Homo sapiens: one gene and its partners. The protein of the gene in region 2 purifies or fractionates together with the protein of the main gene of each other region. This does not show direct contact. Each region holds a gene or a part of one and is shown on either strand. Other genes may lie near its edges.

Region 1 (3,500 bases), on a different chromosome or scaffold from region 2:
TGGGGAAGTTAGGAATGAGTTACATGAACACTGGGGGCCAGGGGAGCTTCCAGATAGAGGGAACAGTAAGTGAAGACACCCCTGTTTCAAATAGGAGGCAGGCCGCATGGCTGGTACAGAGTGAGCATGGGAGGGTAAGGGGATAACAGCAGAGAGTTAGAAGGGCAGGGCCTGGAGAGGCCATCATAAGACCTGAACTTCTCTGCCAAGTGCACCAAGAAACCCAGGTGGAGGGGCCAGGAAGGCATCTGGGCATGGGCGTCTCAAGATTAGGTCTGAGCTAAAGATGGAAATTTGGGGGTCAGCACAAGTGTAGAAAAAAAGGCTAAGAGTTTGTAAGATGGCGCCTTAGGGCATCAAGTGTTCAAGTAAAGGAGACCGTGTGGCTCAGTGAGGTGAGAGGAGAACCCCATGGTCTCAGAAGCTGAGTGAAGACAGCATTTCAGGCTGTCCCAGGAGTGGGAAGCTGTTCAAGAGGAGCTGATGGCTCAGTGCACATCATATTTGTACATTTCTTCCAGGAAAGAGAAATTGAAGATGCAGATGCAGGAGGGAAAGAGAATTGCAGGAGGAGGGTCCCGAGTACTGAGGGGGTCTCTCGCCCGCACTCCGTGCCTATTGACAGGAGAGCAAGTAGCATATGGGTGCAGATGCCTGTGTGCGTGGGTTCGGTGGGCGGGGGGGGGGGGGGACTTTGGCAAAGACTTCTTCCTGTTTTCTCTTCTTAGTGATGAAATAGGAAGCCCCTGAGATGGCGGGGCTGGAGGTGAGGGTGCGGGTGGGCAGACAAGAGGAGATAAAGCAGTTCAGTCGTCGAAAGGTGTGGTGGAGTGACTCCCTGCACTGTATTAGAGCAGTGATTCTCAAGGAGTGGGCCAGGGTTTGGGGTCCCCAAGATTGTTTCAGGTGTTGTGTGAGGTTAGAGCTATCTTCATGATGTATTAAGAAGGTTTTTCATCTTTTCCACTGTCATTCCCTCACAAGTAGACAGTGGAGCTTCCCAAGGTGTGATCTTTCAGCAGCAAGCATAACAAATGCTTGAGAATCCCGTTGTCTTTTAAGCAGGACGTTGCAGAATTGTTAAAACAATGCCATTGTTGTCACTGGATTTTGTTTTGTTTTGTTTTCGGAAGTATAGTGATTTTTTTGGTAAAGGTATTTGTGTTAACGTGTAATTGATTTATTATTTTTGAGTGAATATTTAAAATTTTTAAATCTCAGTAGATATTACGCGTATAAACAAAAGTTCTTTGGAGTCTTCAGTAACTTTTTAGCGTAAAGGAGTTCTGAAACCAAACAGTTTAAGAACTGCTGGACTACAGAAATATGATATGACTAGCATTGTTATGGGTCTCAAAGGAGAATTTGACTAGAAATCAGAAGAGAACAGTTGAAAAGTAGCTGGTTTTGAACCTGACAAAATAGTGGCTCCATTAATTGACTAGGGAAGTGAGGGGATGGAGATGGGTTTTCAGAATGCAGATTTGGGAATGGTGTGCTGGGATGTGCTGGTGAGCTGCCCACAGCATCGGAGCCAGGTTGGGAGGCATCCACTAAGAACACGTGATTGAACACATAGGAATGGGGATGGTGGGGACAGGGAGGTGGGAGTGTAGAATAGGAGTGGGGAGCAAAAACCGAGTGGTGGGAGTGACCACATTTAGAGGGTGGAATAAAGGAGCAATTGTCAGGGAAGACCCAGACACAGGCGGGGAGGATCCATGGGGTTGGATGCTGCAGCGGGCGAGTTTGACCTTCTGTCTCTGCGAGATACATCCCTAGTTGGTCTCCAGTTCCATTAGCAATTTATTGCCACTTAGAAAACACAAGATGTAGATTTATTAACTTGAATTTTAAAGAAGCAAGTAGCAGTTAAGTGAAAAAATATGTAAACACCTTAATAGTGGCTGTGACAGCTTATTATGGCTATTAGGTAGATTAAATCATCTGCCTCAGCCCTAAAGTTGGCCTTAAAGTTGTTGATGAAACATGTTTTGTTTTCCTTGTGGCATATTACTGTTAGCTTTAGCAGGCTTATTTCAACTGGTTATTGTAAACGCTGCTTACTAGAGACATTTCTCTTGTTTCTTTCAGTAACTTGGATCCACTTACAGAAACTGTATCCTTTTTTACAAAAAAAAAAAAGTTGAATGAAGATTTACTGAGAATAAAGAAAACAGAAATGAAAGGAAAACAGAGGAGTACTGAAAAGTTTAAAAACTTGTAGGTCAGGAAACATCATAAGCAACACTGAAAGCAATTTTAAAAAGTGAAACTGAGAACAAGAGTTGTCTTAGATCTGCTGACAAACTGTTAATATCATGACTTGGTAGAAATCTGTAACATCATAGCTCCCCTGCCAACCTTGCCCCTCAGGAGTCAGCATGGCTGTATTCACCAGAAAGCACAGTGACTTCAGCAAGGTGGCTGCATAGTCTCCAGTGTGAACAAAGTCTGGAGATAAGCAGTCCCAGGCAGGTGATGCTTCCATGAAGACACCAACAGCCAGGCTCTTTGCAGTTTAAGCACTCTACCCCTCCCAGGGTGGCCGTAACCTTGTTCCAGATGTTGCCACAGCAAACAGCATCACAGCCATGTTTCCGGCAGCAGAAACAGCAGAGGGGGAGGTGAGGGTGTTCTTCCCTTTTAAGAGTACCTTTGGGCCTGTACTCCCAGCACTTTGGGGGGCCAAGGCAGGCAGATCACGAGGTCAGGCGTTCAAGACCAGCCTGGCCAACATGGTGAAACCCCGTCCGTCTCTAGTAAAAATACAAGAACTAGCCAGCCGTGGTGGCTCACTCCGTAATCCCAGCTACTTAGGAGGCTGAGGCAGGAGAATCGCTTGAACCAGGACCCGGGAGGCAGAGGTTGCAGTGAGCCGAGGTTGCAGTGAGCCGAGATCGCGCCACTGCACTCCAGCCTGGGCTACATGTAGAGCGAGACTCCGTCTCAAAAAAAAAAAAAAAAGGAGAGTACCTTTGGGAAATGCCACACAGGCCCGCTCTGTCTCATTGACCAGCACCTGTTTCATGCTTCACCTGTCTACTGAATCCTATCTAGAGTCCAGAAATGTGCCCTGCTTTATAAATTGGGACTTGTTACTAAAGTGAAGGCTTTGAGGTAACAATGAACAGTGTCTATTATTGTCCTAATGGAAAAATGGGGCAAAGATGTGAAGATAGGATACTGTGGTTATGCTGCTGTAACAGATAACCCCACATCTCTAGTGGCTTACAACACAAAGTTCGGATTCTGTGTTATGCTCTGTATCTACTGTAGGTGGGTAGGAGGGTTCTGCTAACCGGTAATTTATCAAAAGAGGGCATATAGGAGCTTAATGAACGTGTTAAGAGTTCAGTCTCATCAGTCAAAAGACATGTAAACTAAAACCAAAATGAGATGCCATATTTTATGTATCAGCCAAGATTTTAAAAAATGATAAACCTCAGTGCTGATGATGGTGAGGTGAGAGGAACATTCTCATAAATTGCTAGTGACAA
Region 2 (3,500 bases):
CAGTGAAAGAATCCAGTGCTAAAACAGCATTTATGCTGTCTGAGATATAGTAAAATCTCACAAGACAAATTTAAAGTAATATTTCTGCCACACACCTGCTTTGTTAGCTGTAACAGCCTCCAGATTTTATATAAATTAGTTTAAAAACATGGGTGGGTGGGGAGGAATAGGATAAGGTATCTTTTTTAACCACTCAATTTTAGCAGCTTTAATTTTTTAAGAAACTGAACCTCTATCCTGTAATGTTAGATATTTTATATATACTTTTTCAGCAGGATAAAAAACGTAAAACACTATTTGAAGGCAAGAACATTTACTCCTCTCATTCTGTGTAAGTTAGAGCAATGCAGCAGGTGCGTGACAAAAATATTATATACTAGATATGGTCCAAAGTCATTCCATTTGCTTGTTTAGTGATGTTCAAATTTCATTGGCCAGTTCTTCAGCTTCTGCAGAACTATCTCCATTAACTGTGATCTTCATATCCTCTTCATATCCAGGAGGCATGAAAGCCAAAGCATAAGGGAAAAGCTTATGACAATTTGCTCTATAAATTTCAGCAGCTTCTTTACAGTCTCCTAGGCTACCATCATACAAGGCTTCCAATACCTCCATACATGTCTAAGGAAAGAAAAAAAGTCATGTTGTAACTGGTCAAAAAAAGGTTCTTACTGGGAATTTATTAGACATTTCAACAGCAAGAGATTTCTAAAATAAGAAATAAATACACATATTTAGCTATTTACTCCTGCATATGCATTCTATTAGAATGTTCTTCAAGGCCTAATTTAACCATTTCTCCAGAATTGCAGGATTTATACAAAAGGCTAAACAGGGATGACTGCAGAAACAGGAATGGGACTATGGTGAGGCAAGCAAGGTATATGGAGTGCTACATTTAAAAAGCCACTCACTCTCAGCAAGCGTATGACCTTAGGCAGCAATGTTACCTCAGCCTAGCCTGGCCCTGGGTATAAACATCTAGATTTACAATGCCAATACCAATTACTGCACATATGCCTTCTAATATTTTTGAAAGCTTAGAGCCAGCCAGCAAACTCAAACACTGTATTCAACATTGTGTTCAAATTAAAGAGCAACTTAAGGCACATCCAATAACTAAGCAGAAAAGAGTGTCTCAAACATGAAGTGATTATTTGCAAGAAAAATTAGTTCATGAAAATGAGTAATTCTTTCAACCAAACCCCTAAGTAAGTCTGCTTCTTATCTTTTTTGTTGATTCATGTTGATTTGCATTTCTCATGTTTGCTTTCTTAATATTTTCACTTAGAAAAGCTACTTAGTTTCCACATGCAAAAATCCCTACAAACTTTGCCAGGTTACAAAGCAACTTAAATCCAGGTTACAAAGGACCTAGATTAGAACTTTAAATCCAGGTTCTAATCTAAATGGTAAAACAAACAAGTCTAATTTTTCTTTCTTAAAGATACTGCCTTCATTTGCTATTAAATGAATATATTTATTAATAACTGTCTTTCAGCATATACATGTTTATCTGGCAAATTATAACATGAGGTAGCTATCCCTTTGTTTCTAGTTTAAACTACAGTATTTTACAATACACCCATATTAATTTTTATTTAACTTAATCTCATATTGTATTACAAGTTACAAAATAAGTATTTTTATTTAGCCCCTAGTAAATACATCTTTCTTTATTTTGAGATAGGGTCTTGCCCTGTTGTCCATACTGGAGTACAGCGTCACAATCACAGCCCACTGCAGCTCCAACCTTTCAGGCTCAAGTGTTCCTCATATCTCAGTCCCCCAAGTAGCTGGGAATACAGTGCCACCACATCTGACTGATTTTTTTTTTTAAGAGATGGGGTCTCACTATGTTGCCCTGGCTTGTCTCGAACTCATGAGCTGCAGTGATCTGCCCACTTTGGCCTGCCAAAGTGCTGGGAATATAGGCCATGAACCAAAACGCCTAGCCAAAATACATTTTAAACATGTTAGAATCTCCACTGAGACCACTGCTTGCTCAGAAATGCAGAGATATGAAATGAAATCCAAAAATGACGATGGAATGTATATGATTTTATTAAAACATATTTCTTAAAAAGTTATTCCAAGCTACAGATGTGAAACTAGTTACTGAATGCCAAGCAGCCTAAATAAATTTTAAGATAAGTTGTTTCTGACCCAGATTCATAATGATTTAAAAAACAGTGTGTATAAATACCCAATTATTTCTCTTGGTGAAAAAAGTAGTTAAGTATTCTTACAGAGAGATTATGAAAAACTCTTTACCTGGAGGTTTCTGTTAGTGAGAGATTCATCAAGTGTTGTTGCCAACTCTATAGCTCGCTTCTGACTAGAAGGATCTAAGTAATATACCATTTTGGCAGCTAAATGAGAGGGAAATAGGAAATTTATTTCAAGGTAAAACCAACATCTTATCCTCTACTTATTTAAATATAAAAGGCAAACAAGATATATATGCAGAGGGTGTGGCACTTTATTAGAAGAATGGGAACAGCTACTTGAGATACTGTTATTCAAAAAATAATAATGCTAAGGGGATTAGCTTAACCATCCAAAGAAAGAGAACAATAGAGGTATACCACATATATCTACCCAATAAAATAGAATGTATATGCAACACATGCACAGTAAAGGAGACTATGAAGAAACACAAGCATTCTAATAATACTTGTATTTTTGTGGTAGGACCATGATAGTCTTCTTTCTGAAATAAGCAGAATAATGTGGAGGTTGGGGGACTATCCTATCTCAACAGTGTGAGCCAAAATGCTGAATTCAGGATTCCACAAAGGTATACAAAGCTGCTGGGCTTAAGCCAAGTATTTGAAAAGTACTACCCACATGGTCCCATAAAGGTCAGATTTTGGCTCATTGGCACAGACCCTTGACTTAGATTTCTCACAAACTGTGAAGATAATTTCAGGTGTTTAGCACTGTCAACTCTGATACCTACATAAGAATGAGAAATGGAAGACGATGGTCCTATCTGAGTGAATTTTAAGAGCCCAATGATGAAAAAAGAAATAAAAGAAAGCTCTACCTTCATTTTATGATATACATTTAAGTTTAGTTACACCTGCTTCTTTGTAATGCCAATGCTGAACCAGAAGAGACCACTGACTTTGATTTGTAGTGATTATTTTGCCGTAAGAAATTAAAAAATGTATAGGAAGCGCATATATATATAATATATATTATATATATATATATATTATATATATATATGTTTGGTTTTGTTTTGATTTGAAACAGGGTATCATTATGTTGCCCAGACTGGCCTCAAATTCCTGGGCTCAAGTGATCCTTCTGCCTCAGCATCCTGAGTAGCTGGGACTACCGGTATGTGCCACTGTGCCCAGCTTAGGAAGCTTATTTAAGCTGCCTGTTTTCATACGATCACAATGTAACATATACACACTGCCTCTTCCATTCTAAAAACATGTACCTTATATTATTGTTGATTCATTAAAATTACTGAAGTTGTTTTAGAA
Region 3 (3,500 bases), on a different chromosome or scaffold from region 2:
TCATTTAAGTAACCGGAATGATGACACGGTCCCTAAAAGGCCAAGCAGTCTAAGTGTAGTAAGTATCGTTGCTGTTATCTTCTTCTTAGTTATACTAAGTTCTTCACAATTAGCAACAAAAACTGACTTGAGGCAGGAAAAGCAGCTGTCCTTTTTTTCAGAGAATGACTGAACAGAATCTTGCTTGTGACTATCAGTGTGACTGAGGCCGGAACAGCGTCACTGTCCTTGCTTGAGCTCCATGCCCGACAATTCTGATTCATCAGATTTGGGAGAAGAGTCCAAGCATCTGCATTTTTAAAAGTTTCTCATGTGATTTTACTATAGCCCCAGGTGAGAACCACCGCATTACAGAAACTGAGAGCTGGAAACATGTCCAGCATTCAGTTTATCCACTGAGGCCAGTACAAGAAATGCAGCAGGAAAACAGACTTAGGACTACCAACGTTCCATCGGCGCAGAGCCCTCTCTAATCCAATCATGTTTAAGCCCTGGATTTAATCAGGACTTATACAATATGTCTAAAGAAAGAGAGTCAAATCAGCCCATGTAATATGCAACCAGCCTTGTGGTCTCACCAGATGGTGGCTTCTGCTCAGTCCGGGGGTCATTTATCTAAAGCTGTGTTATGATGCTCTGTCTGCTAGTCAGGGAGTCCTCCTTAAAATTTTAGAAAGAAAGTCATTAAACTAAGCACCTATATCTTTGTCATGTCAAATCGAAATGCATAGAAAATGAAAGAGGAGAGACTAACCTAAAAGACTGAGGTTACTATCTCAACTGCAAAACAGAGAAGCTACCTCCAAGCAGATGCCCAACCAATGTCAGATAACCTGCAGTCTGGGAAATCTGGAGTCTCTAAGTTTTGTTCTTTAGATGAACAGGTCTTTACCTTATATCTTCTTCTATCTTTGCCTGAGCTTCAAGGTCAAAGGGATCAGCAGAAAACAGACGAATCCTTTCTTGCTCTCTCCGGGCTCGGTCCTGCTGCTGCTCCACCAGGACTCTAGAAAATTTCTCTACAAAAATAAGGGAGAAAAATCTTAAATATCACTATATTTTCAACGTTTATCAGTACTTTTCCACACCAAACAATTTATCAAACTACATCTGTAAGAGATGCAGAGAGGATGCCTAAAGCTTATTTAAAATGAGCAATTACATTTACTTTCTGTTCTCTGAGTCAAGGCTATTTCATCATTTAAATTCAGTGTAAAGAAAGTATTTGTGGCTGGGTGTGGTAGCTCATGCCTATAATCTCGACACTTTGGGAGGCTGAGGTGGGAGGACCGTTTGAGCCTAGGAGTTCGAGACCAGCCTGGGCAACATAGCAAGACCTTGTCTCTACAAAAAATATAAAAATTAGTTGGGCGTGGTGGTGCATGCCTGTAGTCCCAGCTACTGTTGGATGGGGGTTCAAGGGTGGGGGGATGGCCTGAGCCCAGGAGGTCGAGGATGCAGTGAGCTGTGATCGCACCACACACTCCAGCCTGGGTGACATGGTGAGACCCTGTTTTTTTTTTTTTAAAAAAAAAAAAAAAAAAAGTATTTGCAAAAATTTTTTATAAGAAGTTATCTATCATATTGTTTCTACTCAGAGGTAACAACTTTCCAATTTAAAATGGTGGGGAGTGACCATGTGGCAGATCAATGTCTCCACTCCTCCATTCCTCATTGTTCTCATTATCCTACTACCTAGAAACAAAATACAGCATTATATAATCTCCTTTTCCTCTTCTAGTTTCATTTCTTTTATAACATGCCCTGCCTTAAGCCAGATACATTAAGTATAAACTATTTTTAGTCTACCTATATTTTGTGTGTGTTCTGATGAATTAATAGGCAGGAAAATTAGTAGAGAAAACACTGCTTGCTATAAGATGTATGTTACAACAAGAACCTATTTTGCAATTTCTTTTTTTTTGAGATGGAGTTTCGCTCTTGTTGCCCAGGCTGGGGAGCAATGGCGCAATCTTGGCTCACTACAACCTCCACCTCCCAGGTTCAAGTGATTCTCCTGCCTCAGCCTCCCAAGTAGCTGGGATTACAGGTACCTGCCACCACGTCCAGCTAATTTTTGTATTATTAGTAGAGACTGGGTTTCACCATGTTGGCCAGGCTGGTCTTGAACTCCTGACCTCAGGTGATCCACCGTGCCCGGCCTATTTTGCAATTTCTTAAATGGTGGTACATTTAAGTGTGCAAACTTAAATGCCCCATCATCACCATCTTTGGTGATTAGATATGCTGATATAAGAGATTAAAAGATATTATGACAATGGTTATCTGAACTACTAATGCACACAATACAGATGGATCTAAAAAGCATTAAGTTGAGTGAAAAGCCTAACACGAGCTGGGAGTGGTGGCTCACGCCTGTAATCTCAGTACTTTGGGAAGCCGAGACGGGTGGATCACGAGGTCAGGAGTTTGAGACCAGCCTGGCCAACATGGTGAAACCCAATCTCTACTAATAATACAAAAATTAGCCGGGTGTGGTGGTGCACGCCTGTAGTCCCAGCTACTTGGGACACTGAGGCGGGAGAATCGCTTGAACCCAGGAGGCGAAGGTTGCAGTGAGCAGAGATCGCGCCACTGCACTCCAGCCTGGGAGACAGAGTGAAACTCCGTCTCAAGAAAAAAAAAAACAAAGCCTAACACGAAAGAGCAGACACTCTATTATTCCATATACATGAAGTTTAAAAATACGGGAAACTAAACCATAAGATTATCAAAACAGTAGTAACCTATAAGGAGAGGAGATTGACTAGAAAGCAACACAGTGGAACTTTCTGGAGTGAGAGAAATGTCCTGTGTCTTGATTGGGGTTACAGGAGTTTGTCAAAACTCAAGGAATTGTATATTTAAAATCTGAGTACTTCGCTTAAGGTAAAGATTGCCAATTTAAAGACAGTCAATTGAGGAATGAGTCATTAAGTGTCTGTTATGTTTTTAGACTTAACCCAATTTAACTCATAAACCCAAGAGTAAAATGAGAGTAATTTACAGAGAAAACTCGATTCATAAAGATGGCTACAAGTTAGCTGGGTGCAACTGCTCATGCCTGTAATCCCAGCACTTTGGGAGGCCAAGGCAGGCAGACTGCTTGAGCCCAAGAATTCGAAAGCAGCCTGGACAACATGGCAAAACTCCATCTCTACAAAAAATACAAAAAATAACTTGGAGTGGACTGAGGTTATGGTGATTCCATTTTGCCATACAGGGCACTGAACCTTCCTGGCATCAGCTGGCATCAGCTGGCTTGTTGATGATCTCTTTAATTGAAGATCTAACTAAGGTTAAAATATCGGTACTGGCTGGGCATGGTGGCTCACACCTGTAATCCCAGCACTTTGGGAGGCCGAGGCAGGCGGATCACGAGGTCAGGAGATCGAGACCATCCTGGCTAACACGGTGAAACCCCGTCTCTAATAAAAATACAAAAAATTAGCCAGGTGTGGCAGCATGCGCCTGTAGTCCCAGCTACTTGGGAGGCTGAG
Region 4 (3,500 bases), on a different chromosome or scaffold from region 2:
ACCACTGGAAACTTATTAACTTCAACCTCTGTGACACCTACAGTTGCCAGAAGACCAATCTCTGAGGGGCCCATGTGGGTTCCTTTGGCCAAAACACATTCCCCTCTTTTAATGTCATGGCCGATGGGTCTGAAAGTCAAAGCAGAACCATAAGCAGTGTGATTAGAGAACAACATTTTCTCAACTCAGAGGGAAACTTTAGTGTCAAAAAAGGACATTCAAGAAGACAAAAAAGTCTAGAAATAAAGTAGTAGGAAAACAATGAATTGAAGGGATTCTAAAAATCCTATGCTTTTTTAATTTTAAAAGTTAAATCACACAACAGAAAACAGAAATAGGATTTGAATGTATTACTGCTAAAGAAAAACATGTTACTTCATATTTGAAATTTTTTTTCATGAGTACCTGTGAATAAAATTACTTTACAAATTGTTTTATGTTACATTATAGTAAAAATACCAATTGTAAACTTTCTTTGATAAGGCAAGAATTTGTATGGCAATATCTAGCGGCATTAATGATAAGAGGTCCACAGCTGGCTAGCTTTGTCAAGGAGAATAATGCTAATGAGGCTACAGTCATAGAGGTAATTTCCATATGGACCACTTAGGTTGGTCCTGATCTGTGGCTACTGAGGTACATTAACCTTGGTGTGCTGCCATAGGGATGGGAGAAGTGTAGCTTCGTTACAAAGGGATGTTCAGCAAATTAGTATTAATGGAATCAGGGTAAACATATTCCATTTTAAGAAAAATAATTTAAGGTATATGCACTATTTATCATAGCAAATAGCCTCATCTTTGTATATAACAAGGAACAGATTATTCCATTATTATTGGTAGTCACTAGAGCATATGCTATTAGTTAATTGTGTAAATACCCAATTCTGGTATTATCTGAGTTGATACCAAATTCCAGATTATTTAGGGATGGGATTGGGTAATTCTGGATTATCTAGAAGTAGAATTAACTGTAGAATATGTAGGCTCATGACTTTACCTCTTTCTCATCTTGCTTTTGACTAACTCGCCTTTACCATCTTCATTAAAAAGTAGGCAGGGCAGATATGTGATACAGAATTCATAACATTCATTTTGCTTTTTGTTAAAGCCCTGAAAATTAATGGCTAACTGACATGGCTGCAGATTTATAGTAGCCAGGGTTTCCTGAGTAAATGATCATGTAGAAACAAAAGTAGGCTATATATTCTATGTGTTTTGAAGTTACCTGATATCTTGGCCTGGCCGAGCTTGCACCAGAATTCGCACTTCAAGTTCTTCAGTGCCCTATAATAACAGCCGGTCATGTAATTTCAAACAGAATTTCTGAGCAGTAGAATTTAGTTACTCCGATACTTTTACCATCAGATAGGCCCAGGATATATACAAATATAGACAAAAAGAAAACTATTTGCTACACCCTTTGAAAACACTGAATTTCTAACACAGGTTCCTGAAAAATTAGAAGGTTTGGTGCCAATAAATAAAAAATTTTTTTCTCCAATTTTTATGCTTTTAAAAAATGTACCAATTCAAATATTAAATCTTGTTTATAAGATTTAATATTTGAACTAATACATTATATAGAATTTGTTTATATATTTTTATATACATATGTAGGTGGCTACCCTAATAAAGTGAACGTGTGTGGAGGTAATATCTTCCTTCTTTTCCCATGAATCATGGGTTCAATACCATGCCAAGGTTACCAAATACTTGCAGAAATTTCAGTAAAGGACTTATAGTTTGCCTGGTAGTAGATTTCTGTCCATTAATTGCAGTAATCAATTTTACATTTATGGGCTGTGAATAATATTGTGACATTGGAACTGTGTCTTGTCATCTGGCAGAGTCTGTGGATGTATGTGTTCTGGAATTCAGTGCTTTGCTGGCTTCCCTGATGCCAATAAATCTGCTTAGGCAGTTTTAACAGCAGGCAATGTGATCTGTTTGCCAAGGGTTGAATTTTATAAGCCTTACATATGGAAAGGTGATTAAAAAGAAAATCTCCAGATCAGGGAAAGTGTCTGTCTCTTGGCATGGCCAATTTTACTATCTACTCGGCTTGGGAGAATATATGTTTATTTTTCACCTCAGCTTTAAAATATATCTTTACTTTCTTCATAAAACAAGTAAGAGAGCTGATTATTAAAACCTCAGTTGAATCTATTCTACTTTTATTACTGGCTTATACTCTGGTTTCAATAACCTGCCACTATTTTCAGTGAGATAAAGGCTTGCTTAGGTCCAAAAAGATTCCAGCATCTTTTACTTGAGGCAATGGAGGGAGAACTGACATACACTTAATATTTCCAGGCTGTCATTTGGTGGCACAGCTTTTTCCAGACTTACAGAAAACCAGAGGTGAAAGGGTCATTTGGTTCAAATGCTTGGCTTAGTGTAATATTCAAGAACTTGCCCAAGTGCTCTTTGTTAAATTCTTCTCTAGTAAATTCTGATTTCATGAACTCCTTGACATTTTATCAGAAGCTAGTCTCAATGGCAAATTTCTCAGCTGGAAGGTATGTCAACCATTAATATCTCTGCTCTGGAAGGTATGTCAACCATTAATATCTCTGCATTTCTTTCTTGAGGTACTTTCTTTCGTTGTTTGCATGTGAAACTGCTTGGGTCAAATATGATTCAAATTCTGCTATAACAGCAATGATCATAGAAACCCCTCCTGTAACAACAGATTTTCAAGATTAAGGAAATTTCTTATTTACTGGAGACTCATATACTACAATATAAGATCCCACCATAAGCAAAAACAAAACAAAACTAAACAACCCAAAAAACTGGGTTAATCTCACAAACACTGCAGAAAATGGTTGTGACATAATACTGCCATAGGAACAACAGCACAGTAAGACTTGGTGATGACGTACATCATCTGATTCCCTGATAAGTTCGGTATCTTCCACTTGTACTACTGCATCAGCACCGCAGGGTATTGGAGCACCTGTTGTAACCCGCATGACTTGTCCTGGCATTACTGTCTGAGTTGGCTGGAAATAAAGATGAAAAAGACAGTTGATGTACTTTGCTGCTGCAAAGGAAAAGTCTGCAGAGGATGTTAATTTTTTTAATATTAAAAAATAAACCATAAAAGAAAGTCTTACAGTCTTATTCATTTTGGGCCAGTGTAATAAAAGCTATCCACAAACAGGTGCACTCACACTAAAGGGGCTTTAGGTTCATTTAAGCTGATTTTATGTGTACTTTAAGGTAATGACTATTCGGTGTCTTGGTGCTCTGCTTTACTTTTGAAGAACTGCCATTTACATTTGCCACTTTTGCCTCTCAAATAATGTACATTTTCCTAATATATGTAAAGTGATTTGAGAGTCTGTAAGTAAAAAAATTGCTAGGACATACATTGTGAATAACAATTACAAAAAAAAATCTTCATAACTTATTGAAGTTCTAATGTTTGAGAAATGCAGTACTTTATTAACTAAACTTTTTGGTTAAATAAAGGCAAGCCAGAAATATTTTAAT

What was found. The genes of interacting proteins can lie anywhere in the genome.
Region 1: the proteins of NAA15 (region 2) and NAA20 fractionate together in Homo sapiens (co-fractionation; one large-scale study listed by BioGRID). This does not show direct contact.
Region 3: the proteins of NAA15 (region 2) and DDI2 fractionate together in Homo sapiens (co-fractionation; one large-scale study listed by BioGRID). This does not show direct contact.
Region 4: the proteins of NAA15 (region 2) and GPHN purify together in Homo sapiens (affinity purification with mass spectrometry; one large-scale study listed by BioGRID and IntAct). This does not show direct contact.

What each region holds. Positions count from the first base shown.
Region 1 is NC_000020.11:20,020,362-20,023,861, forward strand, and holds part of NAA20 (N-alpha-acetyltransferase 20), read left to right. Parts: intron 1-2,094; coding exon 2,095-2,119; intron 2,120-3,500. UniProt on the Homo sapiens protein: Catalytic subunit of the NatB complex which catalyzes acetylation of the N-terminal methionine residues of peptides beginning with Met-Asp, Met-Glu, Met-Asn and Met-Gln. Proteins with cell cycle functions are overrepresented in the pool of NatB substrates.
Region 2 is NC_000004.12:139,385,005-139,388,504, reverse strand, and holds part of NAA15 (N-alpha-acetyltransferase 15, NatA auxiliary subunit), read right to left. Parts: intron 2,373-3,500; coding exon 2,275-2,372; intron 622-2,274; coding exon 421-621; 3' UTR 1-420. UniProt on the Homo sapiens protein: Auxillary subunit of N-terminal acetyltransferase complexes which display alpha (N-terminal) acetyltransferase (NAT) activity. The NAT activity may be important for vascular, hematopoietic and neuronal growth and development.
Region 3 is NC_000001.11:15,630,958-15,634,457, reverse strand, and holds part of DDI2 (protein DDI1 homolog 2), read right to left. Parts: intron 1,020-3,500; coding exon 893-1,019; intron 1-892. UniProt on the Homo sapiens protein: Aspartic protease that mediates the cleavage of NFE2L1/NRF1 at 'Leu-104', thereby promoting release of NFE2L1/NRF1 from the endoplasmic reticulum membrane.
Region 4 is NC_000014.9:67,109,647-67,113,146, reverse strand, and holds part of GPHN (gephyrin), read right to left. Parts: intron 3,008-3,500; coding exon 2,888-3,007; intron 1,287-2,887; coding exon 1,228-1,286; intron 130-1,227; coding exon 1-129. UniProt on the Homo sapiens protein: Microtubule-associated protein involved in membrane protein-cytoskeleton interactions. It is thought to anchor the inhibitory glycine receptor (GLYR) to subsynaptic microtubules.